Linked DNA regions of Homo sapiens: region 1 is linked to region 2. Evidence: fine-mapped expression QTL. A gene starts in region 2. The other region holds a variant in brackets. All regions are shown on one strand. Distances are between the middles of the regions.

Region 1 (16,015 bases), 260 kb before region 2:
TTTCCCATGACCTTAATTACAGGGCATGGTAATACTAAGAGATGCCCTAAGGGATCTCCTGTATTCCACACATACTCTTCCTTACCTCCACTGTGGAGTATTAGTCTGATTTCATTTTGATAGTCTAGGTCAATCACCCCAACCAACACTATAACTCCCTTCCATACTGTTGATTTAGAAGTAGGAGGAGCCCCAAGTGGCCAGGTCGCAATCTTAACTTCCAATTTAATGGAATCATTGTTGTGTTTCCTGGTGACAGCATTCCTCCCTCTTGAACTAAGACCTCTAGGCCAGCAGAACATAATGTCATGGGAACAGGAAGCAATAATTGTGCTAGTGGATCATTCCTGGGGAGGTGGCTGACAGGTGGATGAATGGCCTGCAGCTGGTGTCACCTGTTATGCCCAGCCTTATGATTATATATGTATATATTAATTATGTATTATGTATGAATATGTAACATAACATGTATACATATAATATGTATACATAATATGTCATACACAAAATATGAATTTATATATATAAATATTATATATGATTATACATTATGTATATTATAACACATGATTTAGTTCAAATGTTTCCTTCACTTGACCAGACCTGACCTCTAAAGTTATGACTCTGATGCAGTGTCCAAGAATACCTTTTGGTCAATTACACTAACAATCAATTGTAGCAACTATAAGAAAACAGCAATTTTGAAAAAAGAAAGAAAAGAAATCTTACTGACCTACTTAAAATTATGCTACCAGGCCACAATGCTAAACTCATTCAAAGCCATCTCCTATTATTAAATATCATTTTGCCTTTTCTCATTTCCTTCTTTTGAATATCACTTCTATTTTGGATGACATTAACATAATGCCATTCTTCAAAGAGTACAAAGTGCTTTGTTAGCTCCTCATCATGTTCCCATCCATTCAACAATACATGGGCACCTCAATATGAGTCACTGTTGCCAATAACAATGGTCATACTCTTAACACCATGTTCAATTTGAGCACCTCAGCTTAAGGAAGAAATGGAGAACTTGGAGACAGTTCCTCTAAAGAATCCCAATTCTTTCTCTTTTTCCCTTTGCTCCCTCTCCACCACTGCCCTTACTTCTCCTTCCTCCCGTAGCAGTCACACTCATACTCACTCACACATGCACACCACTTGCTTTTCCATTTTCCAGTAAAGCTCAGTGACTGGTACAGTGTGCCTGCTGTGCACACCTGTAAGACCCAGTAACTACAGGTTCAGCAAGAGACCATGCGTAAGAATCATTGCATTCAAGTGATAATATGGGATTTTGCAAGTCTACAGATACAATATTAATTATTTACCAAAAAATGAGTTGCACCTGCATTCAAAATATAACTATACCAAATTTATAATATGTAGATGATTTCAACTCTTTTATCACGTATTTGTTTTTTTAAAAAATAATTATGTTAAAAGAGGCTCCCTCAGGAAACAAATCCTTATGTTTAACTTAACTCCCATTTTCCATCCCAGGCTTCTCTGTAATAAAACCAAAACTCATCTGACACGTTTGTAGAGCACTTTACCCAAAGAGTCCCAAAGGCTTTACAGATTTCATTCTATCAGAGGGAAGGGGAGTAAATTATTCACTTTACTGAGAGCTATGAATAACGTTTCCTGGCTACCTCAGTCAACTACCTCTAATAGTGATAAACTAAATCAGGCTCTCTCAGCCATATATAGGCCCACATCTATCTGTGAGCTTGCCAGGACCCAGAGAGACTAGATCTACTTTCCCCATGCCATCTTTCCATCCATCTTTCCCATCTCCAATCACATCCCATCTTCCCCCTCTTCACTCTGATCTTTACTCACCAGATCAAAATGTGGAAACAGAAAATGAGAACAATTCAAAAACTGAAGGATCAATGCACTAAATAGTTCCCTGACACCCTGAAAGGTTAATGTCATTTCAAAGAACAAGCCTCCATTCCATCTTACCAGTCTCCTTGTGCCATCCGTCCCCAAAATTAAATTCAGTATTCTAACTACATACTATCATTGGTCACCAATAGAAGCAAAATGGAAAGAAGGACCAGGAATGAGTCAAAATAAACTAATGTCTAAAGACAGACAATATTCATATATATATATATTATAGCAGTCATTAGAAAACACTAGTAAAACACTAAAGAAGACCACGAAAAAGAACTGCAGGAAATCTTTAGCAAGGACCCAGTGAGAAAGCCTACAAATGCTCTTTTATAGTAGGATGCTCATTCTCAAAGAGGCAACAGGAATCATTTCATTTTTGCTCAAGGAAAATAAAGGTGAAGAAAATTCACCACTTGACTGTACTAGTTCTGGAAGACTCAACAATAACCTCCCTAGAGTCATTCAATCAACTAACATTAGTCATGATCCTACACTGTCACAGCACTGTGCAAGGCATGGAAAAGGTATAAACATGCAAGGTATCAACATCCCTGCCTAGGAGATCTTCTAGTCATCACTTGGTTTTCTACTATTGGCCTACATTAAGCTGGGAACCATCTGGAAAGGGCTAATGGTGTGATCTAGTTTGGATCTGTGTCCCTGCCCAAATCTCCTGGTGAAATGTAATCCCCAAAGTTGGAGGTGGCGTGTGATGGGAGGTGAATGGATCGTGGGGGACGATTTCTCATGAATGGTTTAGCACCATCCTCTAGGTGTTGTCCTTGCAATAGGGAGTGAATTTTCATGAGATTTGGTGGTTTAAAAGTGTATGGCACCTCCCCAACCCTCGCTCTTCCTCCTGCTCTGGCCATGTGATACACCTGCTCCCCCTTCGCCTTCCGCCATGATAAAAGTTTCCTGAGGCCTCCCCAGAAGCAGAGCAGGTGCCAGCATCGTGCTTCCTGTACAGCCTGCAGGACTGTGAGTCAATTAAACCTCTTTCCTTTATAAATTAACCAGTCTCAAGTATTCTTTATAGCAATACGAGAATGGACTAACACACAATGGAACTTCTAATTTATTATTAGAAGCATACACACCCCAAATACTCTTTTTAATGTTAACATTACTTACACTATAGTAATAAATATATGCCGAACTGCAAATAAACATCTTTACAGATTAAGAATCAATGCACTAAATGTTTCAGCTTCACTCTACTATCTAATCAATTCCACAGCAGTTTATTGCTGTGTATATGCCAAATCGATAAAAAATGCACCTTAAAAATACCTATAAAATAGAATGCTATAGAACAGATACTATAGGACTACAAGAAGCAATTACACTGTGCAATTATATAGCACAATACCAACAGCAAGCAGTTATTGTAACTACCCATGAAAAATTATGGGATGTTTCAAGCTAACTTGCTTTTCCATTACATCCTTCTCAAACAAAATCCAGTATCAAGGAGTGTATTATAGTCCTTTATTCGCATATTCTGGCACTGCCACCAAAATTGAAATGTTCAGGGCTAAACAGGACGAATAGAATGATTCAAAAATTGTATTCAAAGCATGGGCTCCCTTTGGTCCCCAGTGGAATACTACTAAGGCTGCAGAAAGACCACAACCCCATGCTCAAAAAAGGCGTGAAGAAAATAACTCAGAGGACGAGGGTCACTGCCTTCAAACATTCAAACAGGTACCACATAAAGAGGGATGAGACATTCTACAAGGACCCACAGACCAACGAGTCAGAGCTGCTAGGAGAAACTGTGTTTTAATGTGAAGGCAGATTTCCTAAAACTTGGCTCCTCCCCAAAGGAAGAGGCTTGTCTCAGGCCCCAGGGAACTCTTATCTTTGAACTGTCAAGACCATATATTAGATGGTTACAAGAGAATCTTGCCTTTTGGAGGAGAGACCTTGATGACTTGTACAGCGCCCCTCCTGCTCACCTGCTGCTTAACAGAGAATGGTATCATGTGTGGAGCCATTAAAGGCAACAGGGTATCTGAGAAAGTATTCCCGCTGCTCTATAAGGGAGAACTTTCCAGAACTGAACATCAACTAGCTGCTTCAGAAACCATCACTAATCAGACCTCGGGAAATCCAACGAATTGTGCCCCTATTAAATGTAGTGAGTACAAAGTGATGTCCACCAAACATAACAGCACACAACTTAGACTGCCGAGAACATAGGAGAATATTCTAGGAAGGAAATAGCCAAGCCCAGCTCCCAAAGTATAATTAAGGGAGTTTTTCTTTTATTGGTGTTTGTTTGTTTGTTTGTTTGTTTGTTTTTGAGACAGTCTCACACTGTCTTCCAGGCTGGTGTGCAATGGCGCTATCTCGGCTCACTGCAACCTCCGCCTCCCGGATTCAAGTGATTCTCCTGCGTCAGCCTCCCGAGTAGCTGGGATTACAGGCACCTGCTACCACACCCGACTAATTTTTTTGTATTTTTAGCAGAGAAGGGGTTTCACCGTGTTAGCCAGGATGGTCTCAATCTCCTGACCTCGTGATCCGCTCGCCTCGGGCTCCCAAAGTGCTGGGATTACAGGCGTGAGCCACCGCGCCCGGCCAGTGTTTCTTTTTTATAAAGAAATCGTGTATGCACATTTTCTTTTTCGCGTGGATTTTGTGTTCTGTGCTTTATTATTGCTCCATAAACGATTACCGTGTATGTGTAGCTAAGTTAGATGTTTTGCCACAATGGGGTCACCGTTCCCTGTGAACGCAGACGCGGCCCTGCGCAGGCTCGGGTTCCACGCCAGGCCTGGCGCCTTTGCGCTGCAGCACTGCCCGGAACAGCGAATCCAGCGAGAGTCAGAGGGCCTGAAGGTAGACGTCCCAGGCCCCACACTGCCCACCCAGCACTGCCTTGGGACTGGCGCGGTGCTCCCATCTCACCCTGGCATCTGCAGAGTTCAAGGGGGCGCAGTGCGCTGCGTAATGCTCCGTCCTCATCCCCGCGGGGCCTCACTGACAAACAGGCATCACTCCTGGGAACCCACCAGCTCTGGGGAGGGCTGCTTAGACTGGGCGGAGGCACCTTACTCTACCCATGCACTGCAGGTCGCCCACGACTTGGCCCCAGTAGCCATTACCTCGAGTATCGCCAGTCCCAGAGGCAAACGGAAGAGGCCTAGGCATCCAGAAGTGCGTCCCCAAAGCTCCCGCGCAGGAGGAATAACCGTCACTTCCGCTTGCCTCTCATTGGTCAGAGTGAGTCACATGGTGGCATGACGTCAATGGGGGCAGGGCCAGCATCCTCCCGGGTGCCCGCCCTAAGCCTCAGCGGAGCCGCTGGGAGGTGGAGGCGACTTACCGTGGCAAGCCTGGGTGGGTGGGCAGGTGGGTGCCCCTTACTGCTGAGATAAGGCTGTTCAGGGAAGCAGCCTCCTGACAGTGCGTGATGAGCAGGCGTGTAAATCCCAGTGCTAGCCAGGATCCAGGAAAAGGCCAGGCTTTCCCACCTGGCAGGTGAGTGGGGTCCCCTGGACCACCTGGAGGCCACGCAGGAGCAGCGGTGCTACAGCCCCGTGCAGTGAACCCACTCAGATCTCAGGCGTGGTTTCTGGGAGCCACTCAGCCCCTGGCTTCCTAAGACCTTTCCCACCCCACCCCGCCCCTAGTCTTCCCTTCTAAGACTCTTTAGAAAGGAGCCTGTGGTCAAACTTTGCCCACGCATCTAACCTCCAGCCTGAGTCCCTGGGAACTTTATTACGTCACTGCCTCCTGCATAGCTACTGTCCACGTTTAAATATTATTTGAACCATCGTAGCTTCGAGAGGTTAAAACTTTAAGTGAAGAGGAAAATGAACCTTACAGTTCAGCCTCGACTGCCCAATGCCTGTGACTTCTCAGGCATCGCAGCACAAAGATCTACAAGGAACTCATCCAAATGAGACATCTTCCTCATTAGCGTTTATCATTAACTGAGAAAAGAAAGAAGCATTTAAAGTATCTTTTTTTTTTTTCCTGAAGGTATGGAACTCCAATTTTCTCCAAGTAAATATGGACCCATTCGGTTGTTTTTTAAATGAACGCTTTGTCTTTACAATTTGTGCTACAGCAAGCTCTCCTCTTCATTTCTAACTCTTTTTACTGGAGGACCCCTAGAGAAAGTAGTTTGGGGACTTCCATGCTTATTAGATGCACATCAAGCAGATCCTGTTTACTCCGTCTCAGCTTTTCTTTCATGGCATCAGGGGCAGGATATTATTTGCAAGCAGCCAAGGTAATTACCATCCAGCAGGGTCCAATTGTTTTCAATTAAAAGCTTTACTGCAGTCTTTAGTTTTAATACCATTGTGGCCATCTGCTTTCACTGAAGATCTACCAGCCAAAAGCCCAGACCACATCTTAATGCCATTAACTCCTGAGAGCCATTTTCCTCCAGAATGAACTCAATAGTCCAGGGGAAATATGGGGATAGCCTCATGTTATCTTTGGTGGCCTGGGGAAAGCTATAGGACTCAGGAAGGTTATTTTCAGAAAGACAAGCACTACCTCTTCTTGCCTGAAGTACTAGGTAATTGTCTTAATTCTCTGCTTCACTTCAGCAGAGGATGCCGAACTGTAACTGCTCCATTGCACATTTTCCATCCAGCCTCAATATTCTGTAGCTCTATTATAAAATGTCTCTGAACTGTAATTTCATCAGATGGATCACTTTGGTATAGACATTTTCCATTTTGATATTCAATTTCTATCCAACTCTGCTTAGCTCACCATGACCCAAAATCTAGGTGTGGGTAAACGGTAAGGAGTGACCCAGGTTACCGAATGGATGCTCACACTGCAATGTGAGGTCATTTAACTGTTTTCATGGCTTAAAACCTGCAGGCCATTCCAGTCACAAATTTATTAGGGATTAACTAGAGAGTTTTATTGAACTATCAGGGACAATAGCCCAAAGCCTAGACTTGGAGTTTACAGCACATGTTTTGCCTACTCCTGAGGGTTCACACTGTGCATTGGTTCCACCAAAGCCATTTACATTTCTCCCTTCTCCTTCCCTTCCTCTGCAAGGGAGGCTTCTTTGCAACCCAGGTGGCCATGGCCCATAACCCTGGCCAATAAGATGGAGGGTGCAAGTCCAAGAGGAAAGATTACCTTCTCCCAAAACCATACAGAGGCTCTATGCTCTTTGATTTCCTTTGCCCTTGTGCAAAAATCACTAGCTATGTCAGATCTACCAGTAGGATTTATTGTTTTGATTTGTTTGTTTGTTTAAAAAAATCCTAACTGCTGAAGTAATCAAAACTAAGAAAATGGTCACAAAAGTGTCCAAGAAAACCAGAGGTATTGCCTTCCTGGTTCCAGAAAGCATTTCCATTTTGAGGCAGCAAAATTAATATCTTAATTCTCAAAATTATAAGACAAAAAATTCTGGAAGGAATTACTCAAACTAAAAGAATCTAGAATGCAAAATCAATAATCCCTGTGGCATAGCTATCACTTTCCTACAAATATTTCTGGCTTTCCTTCTGGGAATAAGATGGGCTTGTGCTTCCTTGCCCCTCCAACATGAGATATCACGGTCGTTTGTTACAGCAAAATAACCAGTCTGACTGCTACCCAATGCTAACAAACAAACTCTGGAAAATGCAGGGACATTGAGTTGGAGAAAATGATCTTTGAAAAGCCCTGAAAAGCGGGGCACGGTGGCTCATGCTTGTAACCTCAGCACTTTGGGAGGCCGAGGCGGGCGGATCACGAGGTCAGGAGATCGAGACCACAGTGAAACCCCATCTCTACTAAAAATACTAAAAATTAGCCAGGCATGGTGGTGGGTGCCTGTAGTCCCAGCTACTCGGAGAGGCTGAGGCAGGAGAATGGCGTGAACCCGGGAGGCGGGGCTTGCAGTGAGCCAAGATCACACCACTGCACTCCAGCCTGGGCGACAGAGCGAGACTCTGTCTCAAAAAAAAAAAAAAAAAAAAAAAAAGAAAAGAAAGGCACTGGAATGTTATCAAGATCACCCAGTGACTCCGATGTGCAAGAAAGCTTAGAAACCATCCAATCAAAGTCTTTTTTTCTTAATTCAAAAAAAAAACACTCTTTTTATGGGCATAAAAGTATTTATTTCAAAGAGGTCAGAAAGCAATGGCTGGCCATGCCAGAAAAGGAAGCTAAGACGGCTAGGATCTAACTAGGAGGGTAAGTTGCAACCTGTTCATACTGCCCAGATGGAAAGGGGACTCCTATAATATCAGCTTCATACATCCACTGTCTGTAACTTCCGTTACCTAATACCATCTCCGTCAGCCTTTCAGCCAAGTATGGTAGCATCTTTCTCGAATATTTATAAATTGCCTACAAGCACTGAAATTGCTGTTAGAAACTATACATCTTCAAACATGCACACTCCATTCTGTTCTCTCCAGACTCTGTTCTCCCCAGAATCCTGCTAATTTCTCTACAGTTTCAAGTCTCAGTCAGGGCTTCAGAAGGTTGAGGAACAGGCTACCCTCTGCAGTCAAGTTTGTCCTGGCTACGAAGTCCTGCCCCACCTGCAATCTGCCTCTGCCCTCGTGCAGTTGTGACAGACTGGAAAGCGCATTGTATTGAATTACCCTTTCTAGAAAAGAGCCAAGTAAGAAATTAGTTATTCATAAGTTCTTTGTGCATGATTTGCCACAGAAATAACATGAACTATTTTTGTAGGGCTTTGACAAACCTGACTAGGCTTAGCCCAACCTGGAATAGTCCCTGGGGAGCCTGCGAAAAACAAGCCACATGAGCTGTCCTGATGCTAGCTTCTGAGGGCCCTGACCCCCAGATCTCTATCCTCCCCCTCACCCTGCTTCTCATCCCCACCCCCTGCAGTCCTTCCTCTCAGGCTTTTGCAGTTACTCAAGATACTGTGCACGTAGCAGAGCAATCAGATGCTTTCTCTCAGATGGCTTGGCTAATGGCCACTTCCTGTGGTTGTCAAATGAAAAAAGAAGAACTAGCACATCCCCA[A/G]TGACTTATTGTATCACTTCCCGTATCTGACTATCTGGCAGCCAGCATAATTTAACATCACTCGTAAATTAAGAGCCTCTTGCGAGGGTGCCACAGCTGAGCCCACCACCCCGTTTTGCTGATTAGAAAGAAACCGTGCCAGGACTTCCATTATGAATAGTCATTTCCTAAAATGTAACTCCAACAACACTGACATCTAATCATATATTAAATGAATGAATAGGGGTTCCATATCCACCCTGTGGACCTCTGAGCTCATTCTGAAGATTAAAGTGACTTCCTTTAACGTTCTCCCCACTAGCACCGTGCCCGTAAGGCCAGATTTCACCGCGACCGCCCCTTGCACCCCCCAACCAGCCCTCCAGCCCCCAGGTTATCCCCCACACTTTTCCCTGTCTCTTGGCTTTGCTCCGTTTCCCTTCCCTTCATGGCCTGGCCTGTGAGAAGAGTCAAGGTGAGCTCAAGCGAGGACCCTCATTCTGCCCCAACACCTCAGGCCCCTTTCTTGTTGAGAGTGGACAGCTCCATCAGGCACTTGGTGCCAAATGGAAGCAATGGAACTCGGTGCTGGCTCTCCATGTCCAGCCAGCGCTGGCTGCAAGCAGCAGAGACAAGCAGGGGCAGAAATCATAAGCAGACCCCTAGGGCTGCGTGTCCTCCCCTGGGCAGGCACACAGTGGGGCGTGCTAAGCAGCTTCGTAGGTAGTGGCTGCGCCGCATCTTGTTGACCTTAGCAGAGAATCCCATTCTCTGCTAGGCTTTCCAGCCAGGCTGGAAAAGCCTAGCTCATACTTGAGGAAAAAGACCTCCTTGATGCCATATAGGTGGTTTTGCATGTGCGTTCGTTCTGTTCTCTTGCTTTTTTCAGTGTGGGATTGTGAATGAGCACTGGAGCTGGGTCCAATGGCCCAATTTGCACACTGGCTTTGTTTGGTGCAGAGCGTGGCCACGGCCTCAGCAGCCCTATTGGAAGTGAGCTGTGTTTGGGTAAATCATGACCTCTCTGAGCCTTGGGTTTCCCTCTGTAAAATCGCAACCACACTCTACTGAGCCTTGATCTATGTTCAGGACTGTGAAAAATCAATGAGACAACACATATGAAAATACTCTGGGAAATGGAAATTTATAGCTGTCATTTTGCTAAAACTTATAAGAATAGATTAGCCCAGTTCTAGTAATAACTTCATCATTTATGAGTTGTGTGTCTTTAAACATGATATTTAAACTTCCTCAACCACAGGAACTTCATACAACTCATGGCTCCTTCCTAAGTTTGCTGTGAAAACTAAAATGAGTTGATATAAAATACATACCACAGTACTTGGCAGAGAACGTGAGCTCGGTAAATGACAACTGCTTTTATTTGTTATTGTTAGTATTTTTATTATCTGAAGAGGACAAAGAAGATAAAAAGCTTGTCCAAAAAAAAAATGAGATGCCATTTTTATATTTTATGAGTCTCGAAAAGATCAGGGACGTGGTTTCTAAAATGACTTTGATTCAAAAATAAAGACCAGTGTTTGATAGCTTCAGAATATTGTCTAACGGATTTGGGAACTCTGAAAAAAAAATATGAGAACAGCTGACACACTGCAGCTTAAATATAATCAGTCACTGAAATTGCTCTGCAATTTGTTTCAGTGTTTTCCTGTGGATTTCTTTTTTTAACCCTACATGTGTCCTAAATATATAATTATATGGCAGAGTATAATAGCTCATTTGGAATTATTGAGGTCCATTATATAATCCAGTAGGACCATGGGGCGGGGCCTGGAGGGGGTGGTTTTTCACTTGATGAGCACCACACATGCACTGGAGTAGAAGCTAATAGATGGTCTTAGCCCCAATTATCTTCTTCCCCAGGCCAGTCTCCCAAAAGACAGGGAGCACACTTTTCTGCCCTACAACCAAATTGTTTTAAATTGCTGTTGTGCATTTGCTTGAGAGGTCAAAATTTTTACAGAGATGTAAAATTCCTGAAGGGCAGAGAATAAGTGTGTACGTGTGTATATGTATGTCTCTGTATGTCTGTGTGTCTGTATGTGACTCTGTGTATAACAGTGTGTGTGTGTGTATATGAGTGTTTCTGGGTGTGTGTGTGTGTGTGAGTGACTGTGTATTAGTGTATGTCTATGAGTGTGTATGTGTCTCTGGGTGTGTGTCTGTATTTAACTGTGCCTGTCTGTGTGTCTGAGTGTGACTGTATATGACTCTGTGTGTGTGTGTGTGTGTGTGTGTATGTATGAGTGTTTCTGGGTGTATGTCTATATGTGACTGTGTCTGTGTGTCTGTGTATCTGTGTGAGTGTGACTCTGTGTGTGTGACTCTGTGTGTGTGTGTGTGTGTATGAGTGTTTCTGGGTGTATGTCTGTATGTGACTGTGTCTGTGTGTGTATCAGTGTGAGTGTCACTCTGTGTGTGTGACTGTGTGTGTGTGTATGAGTGTTTCTGGGTGTGTCTGTGTGAGTGTGACTCTGTATGTATTAGCCTATGTCTGTGTGTATGAGTGTCTCTGGGTGTGTGTCTGTGTGTGTCTCTGGGTGTAAAGTGTGTGTCCCAAAATGCTAAAAATGGTGGCTTGGACACAGCAAACACTCAATTTTTCAAGAAATGAATAAATGACACAAACTGCCTCTCCCCAGATACCTTTTCTTTGCATCAATCTATGAAATCTGTGTATGTATATAACTGTTAGGCCAGACTTGAAAATATACATTTTCTACCACCCTTACTTGGATTTAAAATAGAATTGGCCAGAGCTGTGGTCTTCTAGTAGAGTTAATCACCTTGCCGATATATCCCTGTTGATTAACTGATGGAGTCAATGCAGGCTTTTTGTCAATTTCCCTTCCTATTGGATAATTTCTCTCCTTCAAGAGAAATTAGGGCACTAGAGACCATATACTCAAAATCCATTACATAATTTACTTTTAATCCCAAGAGAAACCAAGACTGATGAAGGCTTTGCTGTGCCCTGAAAGATTGACTCATAAGGGTTGGGGGCAGAGACGCTCACCTGGTCCAGCCCTGCTGCATCCTCATGCTTGCAGGTTCTGAGCCGGGTATCCAGTCTGCTTCTTTAAGCCAATTCTATCTGAACTGGTCAGTCTTTAACTTCTTGCATTTAAAGTTTGTGAAGAACTGTGTTTCACCCAAAATTCGTTCATTTGCTAGGACACCGTCCCTCTGCCGCATAGGACTCTGTCAGCCCGTGGAAATGGGTGCCACTTTGCAAGCGGGCAAGATGCTTCTCAGCCCACTCCAGAATGCCTGTATCTGCTGACCCTGGAAGTGCTGTCTCCATCAGGCCCAAATCCAGAAGTCCAATCTGCCCCAAGAAGGCCCTCGCTTCTCTCTGGAGTTCAAGAGAACCTTCTGGGTATTCCAGATACCTCTGACCAACCAAGGGTGAGAGCAACCCCCACAGAGTGGTGTCACATTAAATATGGCACTTAGAGAAATCTCAGCCAAAAATTAGATTCTGCAATTATGTCCCTTAGTTTCAAGGCTGCAATCCAGGAATAGTCCTGACCACTTGTACCCCCTCTTTCCCAGGAAGCTGCTAAATGCCATATAGACCATATTCACAGGGATTCAGCTTTCTTCCTATCATTGAAAAGGAGCCATCAGTGATCCCAAGAGGGGATGAGGCCTAAGGCTGGTGGAGGAGCCCAGGAGCAATGGGGGATACGCTCATTGTGGGAAGGCTGTAACTGTGGGTGAGAGTGTTCATCTTGGTTGCAGAAGGAGGACTGCTCAGGTAGAAGGAAGAGGGAGCTGTCTCAAACCAGCAATGGGGGGTCTCCAGACACAGCGACATTAAGGTGGGCACATAGGAGGGCTCAGCAAAGGGCATGACCTGAAAGCCTTCAGGCAGGATGCAAGGACTGTGTCCTGGCGAGAAAAACCATTGAGCCTTCAGAGTCTTTATAATGACCCCAAAATATCCCAATGTTGACTCAGATCTGACTGGCATTTGGCAGTCACGGTGTCCCCATGATGACATTTGATAATACCTTCCTTCCCTGCCTTCAGCCATTGCTTGCTTCGAGCTTGCTTTTGATGTCCCTCACTTTTGTCCAAAATAAACTCTCTGCCGCAGCCAGCCCTGGCGGCTTCTCTCCGGCACATGAACTTGGCTCCCATGCCCACATGCCAGTGGAGTTTCCATAAGAAGCTATGGCATCCTTTCGTGATTCATTCTCAGGATTCATCCAGACCAGCTCCTCACCCAGAAAGGTGACCATCAGGAGTGGGCGACCCAACAGCACTGAGTCCCCAACTCCAAGCAAGCGGCCCCTCCACCTCCCCTGCCTCCAGGCCTTGTTCTCGCAGTTCTCCCTCCCAGAGCCCCCTCCCTTGTCTTCCTCACCTAACAAAACCCTAACCATCTCCCAAGGCCCAGTTTAGATCCTTCTTCCTCCATGGAGCCTCCTCTGCTCGGCCCAACCAGAGGAGAGGGCTCATTCCCATGAACTTATAGAAGCCATATAGGTCAAGGAAGGAGGCTCTTCAGTTTAGCCTTTATCGGAACAGCTTCTGTGAGCTAGGCACTCTGCTTAGGGCTTTCTGGGAAGGACTAATCGAATCCTCGTTGTAGGTACTATTATTAGCTACCATTCTCAGTTGGGGAAACTGAGGCACTAAGACGACAATGGACATACCCAAGGTCACCACTGATAAGCAGCCATTCGGGTGCTGAAACCCCAGTGCACTGGCCCTAGCGCTGGGCTCTGCACCACCTCCCGGGCCACCCTCCTGTTCCTTTTCCATTGGACACTCAGCCCCACGTGGCCTTGAGTCAGCTTTGGAGTTTGTCATTCTATATGCCCATGTCACCCCTGCAACCAGAGGGCAGGGACCATGGCTCAGTGTCTAGGAATGAAGCCGGCGGGGGTCCAGAAGGGCCTGAGGACTCTGGGTCCTGCCGTGAAGCACGGGGAGGAATCTGGGCAAGCCCTTTCTCTGTTTTGCTTCAAATCCACAGACTAACCAATATTTCTGTTTAGAGGTCCCTTGAATATGTTACTCCCGAGCCCAGGAGTAAAGAGGGAAATGGCTCAGTGGCCTGGGCTCTGTCACTGAATCTACATCTCTGTGTCAGGGGACCGCACACACTGCGGCTGGACGCTGGGTTTCTGTCCTTGTCACACGCGTTCCCTCCCAGGGCCATAGGCTTTCCACGGGAGCAGAGGAGGGAGTTGCTAGGGCTGGGAGACACTGGTCTTAGAGGAAAACCAGTCTACACAAGAATAAAAGACAGCCAGGCTCGTTCTAAAGCCCACCGCTCAGGACTGAAGTTGGAAGTCAACAAATAAAACTGCCGTGTCCCCGGTCCCCAGAGGCTGCAGTGGAGGACGGCTGGGTTATTTTGTGCTAAGAACTGATCCCCTAGCAGAACTGAACAAGGCTGCACGGTGATGGAAGGGAATCCCAGTTAATGCTGGGGATTTCAAACACATCAGGAACAGGAGGCGGAAGGACAGCCGGGAAGTCCACAAAGACCAGATGCGCGTCCTTCCTCAGCGGGAGAGGTTACAGGAGTTTCCTTCTCCAACTGATTCTACAAATTCCATCAGGCAGCAGCCTCCACTTACCAAATTGATCCCATCAGAAATGTAGGAGGAAATACTGATTGTGAATCAAAAATCATCCCCCTGTCAGGCCTAACTTCTACTTTTACCTCTACTTGACATTTGCTTCATGATTTAATTTACCTTTTCCTATTCACCCTTCCTTCTCTTGTTTACCTGGCTCCCAATTGAATTGAGCAGCTGAATTTTCATTATGCAAGTCAGAGGTCTGAGGAAAGTGTCTGAGCTTTGAATTCCTGCCAGTAATCCCATATCTGTTCTAGTTCATTCACCATAAAATCATGAATCCTCCTGACCCGCACTGACCTGCTCCAGTTAAAACAGGCATTAACAATGGGGGAGCAATTCATAGATAGGGAAGGGGACTAATTTTTCTGCTAAGCTTCACTCACCCTCAAGGACAAAAACAGTTCTGCAACAGCTTCTCTCTGCCTGTGTCCATTTGGAAACAAAGCAGATCCCAGGCAAAACCATGAGGTTGGCCCTAATCACCTGCCTAAGATCCAGCTTCCTCTTAATCATCTTAGGTGCCCCCCTTGCTCTAGCCCAGAGAGAAAGCACAGGCTGGCCCAGGGGGAGCTGAACCCCCATAATCCACAGCAACTCCTCCAGAACTCCCTGCAGTGACTACTGCACACCATGCCACTCTGAGACACAGTCACAAGACAAGTGCCCTAGTGTCTTCCTACCCATAACCCCTCCTACACAGAAGTTCAGGAGCTGCCAGTGGGATGATGCAGCCTCCCCTTCAGGGGCCCACTGCCCTGCCTTCCAAGCCCTTCCCATCACTGGGGCAATGAACCTGGCCTCACCACACTGTGTCCTGCTGAGATGTGTTGTCTGCTCATTGCTCCTTTCAGAAAAGCCTGCGAGAGAGAGGAAATGAAACAGAGATGGAAGGAAATGCAACCCTGGTAAGTGAGCTTTCTCCTCTGCAGCCTGCAGTCTCTGCTGGCTAAGAGTCTGGGCATTGGCAGCTTTGCAGGGTTGAAAAATGCCAAATGGTTCTGTGACCCAAGATGAAGCAGTGATAGCAGGGTGGCTCTAAAGAGGGAGAGCCTCAGCAAAGAAAAGCCTGACCCCAATCCTGTCTCAGTTACCTCTCCTGAAGAGTTCTTGGGTAGATCAGGGAAGCCAGCCCAGCAGGCAAAAATCAGAATACAAGTGTTGCCTTCCACCCAAGCCCATTTTTTCAGACACCCTCAAGGGGCCACTATTATATTGAGAGAAAGAGAAGATGGGAAGAACACAGAAGCCTGGGGCAAAAAATACACGAGAGATCAAGCTCAAAAACTGTCCAGATAAGACTCCTGGCTGTTTCCTACACATGGAACTGGCTAGAGAAAATAGACTGAAAGATGTGTATGTTTTGGAGTAGATTGCATTGCCAAAGAAATACAAATTGATCTGTAAAAGCCTGTGACTCTCTAACCAGTTAGAAACTCTTGATTCTCCAAACCTGCAGGAAATGGACTACAAAAGCCATTAGTCCCAAAGAAGGGCATGGTCTCCAGGGCACATGCTCCATATGGCCATAG
Region 2 (15,600 bases):
CGCTTATTCCACACTAAGGAATAGCCCTTTTTCCTGCATGTTTGTACTGGTCTGATAAAAAACAATCAAACTTCCTCGTCATTATATTGCCCATTTTAAACATACTATATGCCACACAGAAGCAATCTTTACACTGGGGAATTGACAAGGCTAAAACTAAAGATAGCAAGACAAGAGATGGAGTAAACCACATTAAAAGGGGAAGGGGAAACAAACATTATCTAGGAGATATCATAGTGGTCTCTTACATTTAAAACGCAAACGAGTACTATTTCCAACCAGAGAGAAATAAGCCTTTGTCAGAGACAATGACATAATTGAAATTTCTGGATTTGAAAGATTAAAAATTATTAAAGCCTAAGGTTGGAAACTTGATAACAAGGAATCAGCTCTAAATTTAGAGATTTTAGATCAACATAAAAGCACAAGAAGCCTTTTAAAACTAAAGAACGCAAAAGTATGCAGCTTTTTAAATAGTATACATAAGGTGAAAGTATTTTCAAACTTTTTTTTGGAATCTCCTATAGTCTTTGAATTCGACATTTCAGGAATGCAATTTAATTTTAATTAACCCTAAATATTGCCAAGGCCTATTTTCATTTTATCGTCGATAAAGGATTCCTTCTAAACAACTGCACTCAAGAAAACAAACTTTCACCAGAAATTGTTACTAATACTACTAAAACTTTAACTTAACCAAAATATGCCAAGGAGAAGACAGTAAGAGTGTTATTTTGAAACGTCATAAAGTTGTGCCAATAATTTTAAGGAAAGTATTTTCAATGTTCGAAAACACTATATAAACACATTATGACAAATCAAATAATCTATAACTTAAGTTTCAACTAAATTTAATATAGGTCAGTCAGATTGAGTATGTTACACATTTTGTTCCAACCATTTCCATGGTTAAAAAATAACTGGCGCCCCTTAGCGCTCACATTTGGAAATACTCAATTTAAGAGTTCCAGCATTTTTTTTTTTTTTTTGACATTCCAGAAAGTTTTCTGCCTCCACAATCTTTCAAATGCCAACACAAATAGGAAAAGCAGAACCCCTTAAAGGGACAGCTCAGGTTTTCTCTGGAGCAACTTGAAATTAACAGATTTGCTGTTCCAACAGCGGAAAATGCCCATTTCAACGTTGGTGAGTGCTGTATGTTTAACATACGGAAGCAAAACGACGAGAAAGCCGTAACACCTAACCATTTTCTACTTTTAAGTTGTTTCTATGACTTTCAAGACAACAGAACTCCTGGGATTTTTCTTTAACCATTTTTTATCATGGAAACATTTCCGGCCTTTTGTTCTCTAGTGACATTCCAACTCCCCAAGCTTCAAACTCCTGTTCCCCGACTCTATTTTTAAAATCTCGAAATTCTTGCGAAAAATCTAAACTCCATTGTTCATCTCTTCAACCTGTAGTTTTCAGTTTCCTTTACACAGTCCTCCGGTGGTGCCTCTAAGCAGGAAAAAAAAACAAACAAACTCCTGGCCAGTCGATTTTCGAAACAGACTTTTTTTGTGGTCTTTTTTTTCTCTAGGCGTCCACAGAAACCCACAGCTACTAGAAATTAATACTTCAGGTACTGCTATGAGAACTTCTTAAGGAAATTCCAAAGTTGGTCAACATTAATCTTCTTGTCATTCTTCACTCCCCACAGCGCTCCATACAGCTTTTTGGAAACTTTGGCTCAATTTTATTTCGCCCTTTCCAAACGTCTCGAAACCCTGTCCTACAAACTCAGGCGGCTGCGTCCCCGGGAGCAAACCCTCCGCCCAAGTTCTTCTAACTCAGGCTGCGCTCCGATCTGTCATCGCGTTATTTCGCACTCCACCCCCCCCCCCCCCACCCCCGAAAAGTGAAGTTCAACTCCCTAACAGTTCTCGCTTCCCCAAACAAAAGGGAAAAAAGTGCTTTTCGCCGTCACTTAGTCCTCCTTGTCGGCTACGCCAGCATAATTTCGGTCTCCTACGGAATTTCTTTAAACTAACGAGCCCCACACTGACTTCCACTTAGTATTGAACAGCTGCACCAACTCCCCAACCACGAAACCCCGCTTTAGTCCTCACGGGAGGGGAGAGCTCCCGAACGCGGGGCGGTGGGGGTCCGCGCAGAGCAGGCTCGGGAGGCCGAGCGGAGGAGCGGGGCCCGCGCCGGGCACACGCGTCCTCCAGGCCGGCGGCGCGGCGTGGGCCTGCTCTCGGGAGGGCTCGGCGAGGACCACCGAGTCCGCGCAGCCCCCGCCGACCTCTCGGAAATGTGACCGCCGAAGCTAGAGGGGCCGCAGGGCTCACCCCGCAGCCCTCCGCAACGCGCCAACTTGGACGCCAGCGGCGCGGGGTCCCGGCCGGGCAGGGGGCGTCCGGCACCGGCGGGTCCACCCCGGCCCGCCCGCCCGCCGCAAGCCCGGCCCGGCACCTCCTTTGTGCGCCCTCCTGGCCTCCCAGTCCCCCCGGCGCTCGGTCCCGCCCGGCCGTGACCTTCCCGCCCTCCCCACCATCCCAAGCGGGGAAAGGGGCCGCCCCGGCGGGGGTCGGGCCGGGGCCGGGGCCCTGGAGACGCTCACCTTCGTCCAGCAGCCGCTCGAGGTGGTTGAAGATCCCGCAGAAGTTGGGCAGGCTGCTCATGAGCTTCTTGTCGTTCATCAGCTGCATCAGGTAATCTGGGGTGGGCTTCGGCTTCTCCTTCGTTTCCATTTCCCCGACCATATTCCAGGCTCCGCAGCTCACTCCGCCCGCCGCCGCCGCCGCCGCCGCCGGAGAGGAGGGAGGGGCGGGGGCGAGCCCCGGCCGCGGGCCGCTCGGGACCCGGCGTCCCGCTCCGCGCCGGCTCCCGCTCTGGCTCCCGCGCCGAGCCCCGGGGCGGCCGGCACCGCGCGCTCGCCCGCCCCCCGCAGGCACTTTCCGCCCGGGCCCGACGCGCTCCCAGCCGCCGCCGCTCTCGGCCGCCCGGCTCGGCGCGTCCCTCACGAGGCCGGCGGGCGGGCGGGAGGCGGGTCTCGGCTGGCCGAGTGCGGGCGCGGGGCGCGGGCTGCTGGCGCCGGACGAGGAGGAGCCGGGGCCGCCGCTCGCTCGGCTGGTCGAGCCCGCTCAGCGCCGCCGCCGCCTGTGCCGCGGGCTCGGGGGGTCTCTCTGGGCTGGTCCCCGCCGCGGCGCCTCTGCCGCTGCCGCCGCGCTCCGACTGCGCTCCTCCTCTTCCTCCTCCTCCTTCTCCTCCTCCTCCTCCTCACTCACTTGGCGGCGGAGTTCGCCTCAGTTCAGGCGGCGCTGCCAGCGGCGGCGGCAGCAGCGGCGGCGGCGGGGGGAGGGGCAGCGGCGCGGGGAGGGCCGGGGGCGGGCGGCGGGCGGGGCCGCGCAGGGCGGCCGTTAGCGGGTCCCGGCCGGCGCGCTCCCGCTGCCTGCTGCCCGCCGCCCCGCGACCGGGGCAGCCGCCGGCGCCGCGCCCCCTCCTCCCTGCCTCCCCGGCGGGGCGGGCGACGGGGGCAACGGGAGTGTGACGGACTGCGGCGCTCGGCGGGCCTGGGCGCAAGGACTGGGTCGCCGCCGTGCGGGGCGCCCGGGGCGGGTGGGTGTGGGCTGCGGGGCCGACGGCCGCGGGGGGGGCGCGGGGCTTTCCACGGCACGGGGCGGGTGGGGCTGCGGGCGCGGTCGGGGCTGGCGCGGCAGGCGAGAGGAATTCCAGCGGGACGCGCCAGCGCTGCCTCCGCCTCGCCTCCCGTTACTATAGTTTTTTCAGAACCTCTTATCCACCCCGCAGAAGAGAAATTTTTTTTTAACGTCCTGTTGCTTCACGGGGGACTTTCGGGGTGGGCATCACGTGGCCCGACACGTAGCCGTGGGGCTCCAGAGCGCGTGCGCGCGTCGAGCCCGGTCGCCACGCCCCTTCCGAGGGTCGCTCCGCCCCCGTCGGGCCCCGCGAGCGCGCGGTGGGGGAGGGGAGGGCCCCGGAGCGCGCCTGCGTGGGGCGGGGGCGGCAGCCGACTAGGGGCTGGGTCTGGCCGTTTAGGGCCGGGTCTTGGCCCGTCGCCCACGGTGCGGAGGGCTGGTGGGCTTTCCTTGGCCGTCGGGCCCGCCACGGCGCGGGTCTTGGCTGCGGGGCGGAGGTGGGGCGGGAGAGCCGAGGATAAGAGTTTGAGGCTTTTCGAGGCGCGTGCCGCGGCGTCCGCCTCTGCGGGACTCTGCGCCGGGCGCCCTCGGCCGGCGCGCCCGGCTCCCGCTTTGTCGCCGAGGGAAGCACGCGCGACGCCCCTCCCGTCGCCGCCGTGGCTTCTTTCGGTGTTCGTGATTTGCTGAGAGGCTGGAAAGCAGCACGGCGGAGAGGAGCCTTGCACTCGCCAGGCGGGAAGCCTGCGCGGACACGCGTGCGCACCCACGGGGCGGCGGGCGGGCGTGGGGGGTCCGGGCCACGCGGGCGACGCGCCTCTAGGGAAGCGATCTTGTTGCACCTTCCCGTTATTCTGAAAGCAAATCGTAGCCAGACCCGAGCGCAGCGGCTTAGCAAATAATAAGGGGAGCGTCAGTCGTGCTCGAAATGCTTCCTTCGCGATGGCGTCAGTGTTCCGTGAGGGAATGAAGCCGCAGTAGGAAATAAAGAGGCTGTGCGCGTAGTCTGAAAAGCAGAAGTCAACATTTTTACAGATGAAGAAAGAATACGGAGGCAAGAGGTCTTTCTCTGCAGTTTGGTGGATTTCCAACATTTAGACTTGTTTGGAAGAATTTCCTCAGCTGCACCAATGAAGTCCTTGATCTATAGAAGTCGGCAGTCCCTAAATCTACGTCTGCATTTTGTTGCAAATCCTTTATAACATTCCATTAAAATAATGCAGAGTTATTTAATATCCAGTTGGCCATCGTGAGAGTAATTCGCGGCTGAGATTTTGTTAATCATTCTGTCTTCTGACTTAACAGTGAACGTAGGTGATTTTTTTTGTAAAATGTTGCTTCACATGAATTGTGAGAATCACCTCTAAGTTTGAATTGTACTGAAGGCACTATAAGAATTTCAAATGAACGCTGAGTAGCCAGTAGCCTTCTGGCCTTTTCGTTTAACAAGCACAGAGTTCGTTTTTAAAATTAAGTTACTTTGACAGAGGAAATGTAATAGCCTTGGTAGACAACATTAAAAATGTAACTGTCAGATGTTTTAAAGTCTCCAACAGCCGTATCTGTTTTAGAGCCATAGAATATTTACTTACTGAATTGCCTGTTTAAAGATGAACTTTCTAAATGCAGGGAATAGTAACTTGCAAAAAAGCTATGGTCTCTAAGTAATGAAGGCTGTTTCAGTACCTAGAAAAATCAAAATCAAGGTTTTGATGCTGCTAGTGTAAAAGATGCAATCCCCTTCTTAATGGCCTGCTTATTTATTAAGCTCCTAGGCACTATGCTGAATGCCCTACATGCATATCTCGTTTAATCATCAGTACAACTTGGGCTTAGGTTAGACTGTTATCCCCATTTTACAAATAAGGGGAAACCCAAGAAAGATGAAGTTAAGTAACTTGCCCAAGAATATAGCTAGTGAGTCCTGTGTCTGGGATTATAATCCAATTATATTTTATTCTAAAGCTTTTTTTTTTTTTTTTGCTTTTTTTCCTTGCCCTATCCTTTAAATCAGGTTGAATTTTATGACAATATTCCACCATTTTTGACCCATAGAAATGGCAGTGTCATAAGGCTCAACCACTTAAACCAGATTAAAGAACAATGATAGGCAATTTTCATTTCCTATGTATTAAATCACTTACGGTTACAGCATTTGATAATAGCTACTGTGTGTTAATTTTCTTTTTTTTGAAACAGAATTTCGCTCTTGTCACCCAGGCTGGAGTGCAATGGCGCGATCTCGGCTCACTGCAACCTCTGCCTCCCCGGTTCAAGTGATTCTCCTGCCCCAGCCTCCCGAGCAGCTGGGATTACAGGCATGCGCCACCACGCCTAGCTAATTTTGTATTTTTAGTAGAGACGGGGGTTTCTCCATGTTGGTCAGGCTGGTCTCGAACTCCCGACCTCAGGTGATCCGCCCCCCTCAACCTCCCAAAGTGCTGGGATTACAGGCGTGAGCCACGTGCCTGGCAGGTTACCTTTTCAAATCTATGTAGATCACCTCATTTCCTGACAGTCCCTCAATGGTTTCTTATCTCAAAAAAAAAAAAAAAAAAAAGGAAAGAAAGAAAAAATCCGAAGAGCTTACCAAGTCCTGCAAGACGACAGGTGTGCCCCTGGTGCATCACTGACCTTATGTCCTTCTCCTCCCACAGCCCACTTGGCTGCACCCCCGTGGAATCCGTCTGGATCCTTAAATATTCCAAGCATGCTTACCCTCCCCAGGACTCTGCCCTTGGTGTTTGCTCTCCTCGGAAAGCTTTTCCCCATACATCGGCGACCCCTGCCCCTATTTATCTTTAGAAGGTGTCCCTTAACACCCTATGTAAAATGGCGCCTTTGTGCACGCAAACACTTCCTCCCTTCTTCCATCTGCTTACCCCAGGTTCTTTTCATACCATTTGTTTCCACGTAACAATGGGTCAACTCGTTTGCCACTGGCATCAACATTGTAAGCTCCATGAGAAAAAGGAGTTTCTTCTATTAGGAATTTCCAACACCTAGATCAGCATATGGTACACGTAGGCACTTATTAAATATATGTCCAAAAGAAGTATTAAGTACTTGTTATGGACCAGAAGCTCTGCAAAACCCTTATCTTCATTGTTTATTTTCATCCTTACAGCCAATATTTGAGGTAGGCAGGAAGAGCCATATTTCAGAGATGAGAGGGCTGATGCTTAGGAGGAGTAAGTAGCTGCAGAGGGTCGGGTGCGGTGTTTGTGCCAGTAATCCCAGCATTTTGGGAGGCCAAGACAGGTGGATCACTTGAGCCCGGGATTTTGAAACCAGTCTAGGCAACATAGTGAGACCCTATCTCTCTAGAAAATACAAAAATTAACAGAGTCTGGTGTCACATACCTGTAGACCCAGCTACTTGGGAGATTGAGGTGGGAGGATCAGGGAGGCAGAGGTTGCAGTGAGCTGTGATCACACCATTGCACTCCAGCCTGGGCAACAGAGCAAGATCCCGTCTCAAAAAAAAAAATGTAGAAAGACTAACTTTGTAATAATTACATTATTACAAAAATGTTATCTTAATACAGTATTGAAAATAAATTACAACATGTAGTGAGTATATATACAGAATGAGCCTCCAGTTGAAGATCCCTATAATAGGTTTTTTCACTGTGAAAAATTGTCATCTAATATGTTGACACTAAAAATGGTTCCACATTCTAACATCAGTAATTAACCAGGCGTGGAAACATATTTTCTATTCTGTTAAATTTGATTGGCTCTATTTGCTTATTGCTATTCTTAACATTTAAAATAGAAATTTGCAGTATTCCAAACCTTTCTTTATCACCATAGAGTTCTCGAAAGAACTATAATGTTCCTTGGATATAAGATTTAGGGTTTTATGGCTTTTTGTCCCAGTGTTCTTTTTAAAAATCTTAGTCTTTAGATTTTCCTAAAAGGAATTGGGGCATTCTTGGTATCTTCGCAAAATAATTGTTTATTGTCTTAATAGATTTGAGCATCCTTTTAAATTACGAGATGGCGCTTTTTTTTTTTTTTTTTACTTTTTAAAATTTTTTTTACTTTTAAATTGTGAGATGGCTTATCAGGTACTATTTAAAAGATTGAAAATGAAACATTTCAAATGTGAATATCTTAAATATTTCCAGTACCTGTTATATGTAAATGCATATCATTAACCCTAAGGCATTTACAGGCTGAGCTGGGAGTTAATAGCATGTGCAGGTACATTTAAAAAGTTAACTAATAACTGCCACGTAAAGGCTAAAGACAAAAATGCTGTGAAAATACCGGTGAGCACCAACATTGCCTGCCCGGAAGCCATTGTAAGACCACACCGGGGAGGTGGATTTGATCTCGAGGCGGAGCAAAGAGTGTTGGGAGACAGCAATGACAGAACTTGGGAAGTGGAAAAGTACGAGGTGTTAGGGTAGGAGTTTCCACAGAGAGTATTTGATGCCAGATTTTGGTTGGCCTTGAACATCAAACTAGAGTGTTTGTAGGGGAAGAGCCTTGGGATTTGTGTGTGTGTTGGGATGGGGAGTGGGCGGAGATGGCGGCGGGGGCGGGGGGCGGTCAGGGGGGAGGTGGTCTCCCTAGGTTGTTGCCCAGGCTGATCTCAAAAGGAATTTTTTTTTAATATAAAGAAATGAACAAATTAGATAGTAACATGGATTCCTCTCAGTGAACCTTATTTATATCTACTAGTACAAATACAACATTTGTAAAATGAAAGGCATTGCTCTTCACAGCTGTTCTAATGGTAACTGTGCTGCTTTTTTAAGCCACTGACATGATCATTCCAGATGTAGTACTAACATTTAGCTTAAACTACTGCACAACGGTTAAACGGTAACTGACAGTGTAAGGTTTCTACTCATTTGACCCTAAATGAAACTTTAGAGGTAAAAACATTCTCAGCCAGGATGCAGGTCCTTGTGCTATATAATCCAACCTTCATTCCATATTTAAACAGAAACCACCTAAAAAATAACTGTCTGTCAATCACAGGAAGGTGAGAGTGAGTTACAAATGCATTTTGTTTTGATCTACTCCCAGACTGATGCTTGGTTTTATGATTGCAAGACAATTTCACAGGTGCTCTCCTGGATTGGGTTGATTGTTATTTTATTTTATTTTTTTCCTTCAGATTTGGGACCCTTTAGGATGCATCTGTGATTAGATTTTTTTTAACATACTAAATGGATATGTTGGATTTATAGTCTATGAGTTAGTTTTAAAAGTTAATATGGGTGACCATTTTACCAACAAGGGGAATGACTATTCATGTCCCAGACATTTAATCAAATGCCATTATCCTTTACTAAAATTTAACTTAGAGCCTAAATGTACTTTTCCAGTAATTTCTGTATATTAATGCGTTCTTAACTGAGTTCCCAGTGAGACCAAGGAAAGACCAAAAAAAAGACTGACATTTATAGAGTCCCGATCAACCTTCGGGCACTTCAGTTACTGAGTATGCAGCAACTCTGAGTTAATAATTATCCTCATTTTACCGCTGAAGAAGCAGAGGCTGAGAGGGTTAACTACATAATGTGACTCATGTGGCAGCTACTGAATTCAGGACAGGATTCAAGGCAGACCTTCGGAGTCCTGAGTGATGGAAGGCACACTGTTGACCTTTCTGTAAGTTAAACTTGGGTACCTCAGGAGCTGTACTTTAATTAAAATACCTGTGGCGTTTGAGTCTCTTTTTTCCAGTATTCTAGCTGATGGTGTATAGAGAAAGGATTGCTGTGCTAGGTATAAAAAGCCTTATTCGTTCTATGCTAATAAGTTGTGTAGCACTGCATAAGTAACCCTGAATCCGAGTTGAACTAAGTGATCTCCAAAGTCATTCGAAGGTTTAAAATTCTGTGATTCTAAATAAAATATCCTCACTAAGATTAGCAAATTGACCTTGTTGTAATTTTATTTCTGCACCCAGGATAACCCTGTATGCAGATGGATGGTCATGTAATAGCAATAAGAAATTAATATAAAAACCTTTAGGTGTCCAATTTTGCACAACTTGTTGAAATAAGTAATAAATAAATAATATGGATATATATTATATATTATGTATATTATATATAATATATATAAAGAACTATAAATTCTTTGTGTGTGTGTGTGTGTATATATATATATATATATATATATACACACACACACACTAAGAATTTTTATTTCCCTTAGGCAACACATTTGGCTGAAAATGTTACATTTTTGTAATTTCCAAAGAATTAAAATCAAATCTTTCTTATTTTTTTAAACATACTACAACTTAATAGAAAGTGGAGCACTAAAAAATTTCATCTAGAGCTCTTGATGAAGAAACTTACTACAAGTAGAGCATAAAAATTCCTTAAAGGTAGAATTCAGGTCTTATTCCTCTTTCTGCTCTTAAAATGCTTTACAAGTAGTCTACTTTAAATAATTACTTCTTTGAATGAACAAAAGAAAAAAAGGAAAAAACACAGAGACATACTTGGACTCTAAGGAGAGGAAGCAGCCATGTAAGCTGCTCATAGCATCTGAAAATCCAAAAGATTTCTTTGCCTTCAATGACAGGTAGTGTTTGATGCTGTGTGTTCATATTTTGCAATGTAATTCAGTGATTCTTGCAAAGTATTTTGGAGTGTAAGCGATGTCTTACTCAGCAGGAAACAGCATTTGTGGCAACTAGGCCAGGGAATCCATAGTCCTCTGAATCTATAACAGGTTAGAAAATGAGCGCCTCTGGTTTTAACATTGAAGAGTTTGTATAGCAATGATATTTTATCAGAATTGTTCACTACTTATTCAGATATAAGATTAAAAGCAGGCAGGGCACAGTGGCTCATGCCTGTAATCCCAGCACTTTGGGAGGCTGAGTCAGGTAGGTCACTTGAGGTCAGGAGTTTGAGACCAGCCTGGCCAATATGGCGAAACCCCATCTCTACCAAAAAATACAAAAATTAGCCAGGTGTGGTGGCGTACGCCTATAATCCCAGCTACTAGGGAAGCTGAGGCACAAGAATGGCTTGAACCCAGGAGATGGAGGTTGCAGTGAGCTGAGCTCACACCACTGCACTCCAGCCTGGGCAACAGAGCAAGATCCTGTCTCAAAAAAAAAAAAAAAAAGATTAAAAGCAATTATTTGTAGCACTGAGATTCAAGCAGTACACACCAGTACAGCCTTTTCAGTTTTTAAATTTTGAAAGATTCCCACACCACTCAGTGAGCAGTCACTGCTCTGAGCCATACTACCCAGGCCCTCTTCCGGAGCCCCGGGACCCCCCTAACCCAGCAACCAAAGGCAAGATGCCTGGCACCCTGACCCCATCAGGGCTGGCAGACACTGATCATTTATGCCTGTGCTGGACCAACTGTTACAACTTTTTGATTATTACTTCTGTTTGTATGGGCTTCTTTGCATATTTAGAAAATTATTTTATTTCATATCTTTATGTCCATTAATCCTGGGCTTATGAGTTTTTACTAAATGTAATGAAAGTGGATAGTTTTTTGTCTAAGATACATGTAGGTTCTTTGGGTATATATCCAAATTTAGAAAGGTTTATACAAATGACATTTATCCAGTGGCAATGAAATACCAAAGGCTTCAGTTTTGCTTTCTATTTTCCATAAATAATATGTTAAAAAAACAGGTTGCTGCCAGAGATGAAAAGTGATTCATTCTCCTCCTTATGATAAACTCTGTATTTCACACAAAGAAATATCTCTGTTCTGTTCTTCCCCAGTCCTGTGTAGCCATTTGCGTTCCTTTGCTGAGCTGTACAAGTAATACTGATGATGCTAGCATTTATTATTTCCTAGTTATTCTGTCTAAGCCAATCTGTAAAATGTGTTACAGTTACATTTTATAGATCTTCAAGGACCACCAACTTGATTAACTGACATTAATGACACTGTATTTTTCTCAGTATCCATTGGTAGTGAGCATCCTTTTGAGTTGGAAAGAAAATGTGGCATAGTGAAATGAGCAGCTGTTTTTATTTAACAGTTTTAAAATGCGTGCCCTATATTGATAGTGTGAGCTGGGAATTAAGCAGCCGTGAGAAACTGAAAGCTAAAGCTGTGATCGACAGAGGGACGTGGCCCTGCTCCTGCCTCTGTCCTTTCTGTGTCCAGGTGAAGCTGTTAAAGGAGCAGAAAGAATGTGAGGGGATCAGGAACGCAAACTTAAATGTGAATCAGGAAGGAGAAGAAGGGCTTGCATGCGAGGAGTTCAAAGACAGTCTTGTAAACTCTCCCATCAGCTGACCTGCCAGCAGCGAGCCGCCTTCTCCTCCAGTTCCTCTCTGGGTGCCTGGCTGTTGGTGGCAGAGGCAGCAGGCCCTGCTCTGTGCCAGGTCCTTGACCTCTGTAGACCGACAGCCAGACTTGACCTTCTCCTCCCCCTCAGCTCACCAGATTTCAGCTTTTCAGTCAGTCCCATGCCTGATTTCATGAAGGCACACTGGCACTTCATCAGATGGCCCCAGCCAGGCCCTGCCTCTGTGTTTGGGAAGAGGGAGCAGACACAAGTCTCAGACTGTAAGTGGCAGGCTGGCCTGGCGTCAGGGCCACTCAGCACCCAGGCCGGTGCGGGAAGGAGGCCTTTCATCTCTAGGCTCAGACAACTGGTTTGGGGCCTTTTAATAAGTACTTCCTTCTGCACTGAAATATGAAATAATAATACCTTAGCCCCACAGCATAACTATGTGCCAAGACTATAGAAACGCTTCTCACAGATAATGCAGAGGAACGGTCCTGAAACAAGGACGGAAAGTCCTGAAACATTTTTCCTGAAGAATTTGCTGGTCCTCCGAGGCAGCTGCAGAGCAGGAGGATCCAGAAAAGTCACTGAAGAGGTCCCAGGTTCAAATCTCGACCCTGTCACTTGCTAAAAGCAACGTAAACTCTCTGCACCTCTCTTTTCTTGCCTGTAAGGTAAGGTGGTGCAGCATAAGGATGTTAGGATGGCATGGGTGCCTCACTGCATGCCTGGGACATGGTAAGCTTTCAATAAATAGCATCATTTTAAGAATTGAAAAGGAGGCCTGGATAGGGCTCCAGTTCGTACACACGTATTTTGGGATGTGTGCAATCTCTCTACGTTGAAATTTTCTCCACAAAGCTCAAAAGTATTCAGTCATCAGTTTTCTGCTGCTTCCTATTGCACAAACCGTTTCCTGTTCCCAGGACTGCTGACACTAGGACGTAAAGGGACAAACAGCCTGATGAAAAGGAGCCTCAGTCCTGGGCTGGCCCCATTGTCAGCAGCAACAACACTTGCTCTAAAGCTGGCCAGGGGTCGCCACCAAGACCCAGTGTTGAAAGCCACTGTGTCATTGCAGGACCAAGTGGAAAAGGAGAGGCTGCCTCCCTCCTGCGCCTGCCCTAGAAACAGTGGGCCTGGCAGTTAGTGGAGGGAGCTTAGGAGATCCCGTCTTCCGGAAGGTCCAGGAGCTCACCACGCCTGTTAGATTCCATGATGATATTCTAGCACAGAGAGTTGTGGGCTAACCCAGGGTTTAAACTGTGATGTCCAAGCAACTGTTGGGCTGCATTATGCCAGCTCAAGGGCTTTCTCCAATCCCTGCCCCGAGGTGGCCACCGCAGCAGTGTAGGAGAGTGAAGGAGCCAGAAGGGGGTCTGCCCCACCTGCCCACTCAGCAAACCATGCTTTTGGCTTACTTCACTAGATACTTGGAAAGCAATAGCAACAAGCTTTAATCAGATACCATGGGAAAACATAGCCCTTATTTTGAATCACCTAAAATCTGAAAGTGGAGAGACAAAAATATACGTACTTCACTAGTGGCTTCTGCAAGTTTGTTTTACTAGATCATGCAGGAAGCAGCTAGACAGCAGTGGCTCCTTCTACCTTCCCTGCACGTGCCTTGAAATCAGCTTCATCTCTCCTGGTAACCCCCTAGAAATTTCGCTTCAACGAGATTAGGTCCTTAAAATTATGACTTCTGCACCTCCTAGTCTTGTCACCACCTCCCAGCCCTGGGCCACACCTGTAGCCTCCAGAAAACTTACCAATGGAGTCAGGACTTTCTCTCAGTGGTTTTCAAGGTAACAAAGTGGCTTTCAGAGCCTCATCTCCAAATGAAGGCCAGGACACACACAATTAAATCAAGGTAGTTGAAAGGAAAAAGCTTTCAAATAAACCTTTCTGGGATTCAATTATGAGTCTTGCTTCACCGCGAATCACATACCCCATTGTAATACTAATCTTGAACAAAATTTCTATTTGCATCATATGTTTTCTTGCTCACCAAGAGGGCGACACATTACCAATAGATACCTGGGGACGTGCTTCAGTCTGAACTATAATTGAATCCCTGACATTATAAGGAACTTGGTAAGAATTTTCCTCTTGAAATCTATTTTTACAAAAGTGACTTATTGTGTACCTTGTGTGCAGTGATAATGCACTAAGTAAAGGTAATGCCAGAGACCACAGCAAAAACTTAGATGATCTGTTTTCACACCAGATTTCTCCGAAGCAAGATCACCATCACAGCACTGAGCTGCCGTTCACTTAGTAAGCCACACAAATCTGAATTCAGCACAAAGCCTTCCCTCTTCGTGCTTCCCCCGCCTCAAGCCTCAAGTTCAGCAGCTCCTGCCTCAGCCCTCTCCCATTCTCTCTGTCCTCATCGTGGTCTGTGGGTCCTTTCCCATCCTCCCCACAGCCTCTCCATGCAGAGTTTCTGAGGGGCCCTGAGTTACGCTAAACTTGAAACCTGCTGGTGTGATGTGATAGAATTTCTTATGTATAATATAACATATGCATATGAGTGCAACATGAACACCCCATAACCTTGTTCTTGATGTCTACTGTCGAACTTCCTGGATGTAAGACTTTCCTAGCATCTTAATACAGCTTTTTAAAAAATTGCCAACTTACCGGCTGGGCGTGATGGTTCACACCTGTAATCCCAGCCCTTTGGGAGGCCAAGGCAGGTGGATCACTTGAGGTCAGGAGTTCGAGACCAGCCTGGCCAACATGGCAAAACCCATCTCTACTACAAATACAAAAATTAGCTGGGCGTGGGTGGCGGGTGCCTGTAATCACAGCTGCTCAGGAAGCTAAGACAGGAGAATCGTTTGAACCAAGTAGGTGGTGGCTGCAGTGAGCCGAGATCACGCCACTGCACTCTAGCCTGAGCAACAGAGCGAGGCCTCATCTCAAAAAAAAAAATATTGCTAACATACAATTTCTCATTGTTATTTACCCTTCATTTGACATTGTATTCCATAGTCTCAACTTTATCTTTACAGCATTCATTCAAGAAAGGAAATAGGGATTACATGAGGAAAAAGAGAGCAAAGGAAAAAATTTCGATAAAGGAAATTGTCCTCCCTTCCCCCCCACCAAAAAAAAATTCTCCTTTGCTGGAAAGTGAACCTAAAAGCAGTTTTGCTTTTCAAAAGTTTTCTAAACACACACACATACGCATACACACACACACACGCATACACACACACACGCACACACGCACACAGTATTTCATGGCCTGTGCACCAGTTCTTGCCCTGCCGGCTCAAGGTCTAGCTTGTTTTTCCACCCCATAGTGTCAGGCAGGTCCAGCCCTCCTTTATGTCCTAGAGTTCGTGTTGGTGCCAGGCAGCTTCAGATTCTGTGCCCCATTTGAAATCATTTGCAAGATCTGAATTGTTAAAGAAAATACCCTGGTTCTGAGTAATGCTAACCACTGGAAAATATTAGAAAACATTTCAAAATAAGAGGGTCCTTGGATCTGTTATTTATTTCTTATTGGAATTGAATTAAATTACTGGTCGACATCACAAAACTAAAAATCTTTGTCATTCACCATATATTTTTCCCCTTTAAGAATCAACAGGAAGCCCCAGAGCTGGGGAGAAACCTTCCTACTAAGTGAACTTCACCGTTTGCTCTACCTGGGCCTGACCTGCACGGTAACCAGAAGCTTCCTGGGCCCAGCAGTTTCAACCAACTATTTCAGGAACCCGTGCTCACCCTTGG

What was found.
Region 1: its variant is fine-mapped to the expression of QKI in whole blood (INTERVAL, PIP 0.98). The same link has a PIP of 0.9 or more in B cells.

The regions. Positions count from the first base shown.
Region 1 is chr6:163,660,700-163,676,714 of GRCh38, reverse strand. LOC102724152 (a long non-coding RNA gene) reads left to right here and starts at 5,231. Exons shown (of 2, transcript NR_134620.1): 1 at 5,231-5,394; 2 at 12,058-12,349. RefSeq lists an enhancer at 15,131-15,270. The variant A/G (reference allele first, on the strand shown) is at 8,884.
Region 2 is chr6:163,402,305-163,417,904 of GRCh38, reverse strand. QKI (QKI, KH domain containing RNA binding) reads right to left here and starts at 3,187. Exons shown (of 8, transcript NM_006775.3): 1 at 2,570-3,187. The coding sequence starts at 2,711. It overlaps LOC124901234 (basic proline-rich protein-like), which reads right to left and starts at 6,324. Exons shown (of 4, transcript XM_047419614.1): 1 at 6,196-6,324; 2 at 3,820-5,291; 3 at 3,237-3,656; 4 at 2,729-2,940. The coding sequence starts at 4,699. The coding sequence ends at 2,729. It overlaps CAHM (colon adenocarcinoma hypermethylated), which reads left to right and starts at 3,955. Exons shown (of 1, transcript NR_037593.1): 1 at 3,955-4,840. RefSeq lists silencers at 2,169-2,358, 2,559-2,608, 2,859-3,678, 3,769-4,548 and enhancers at 2,629-3,282, 3,283-3,935, 11,541-11,730, 11,961-12,140, 12,151-12,220.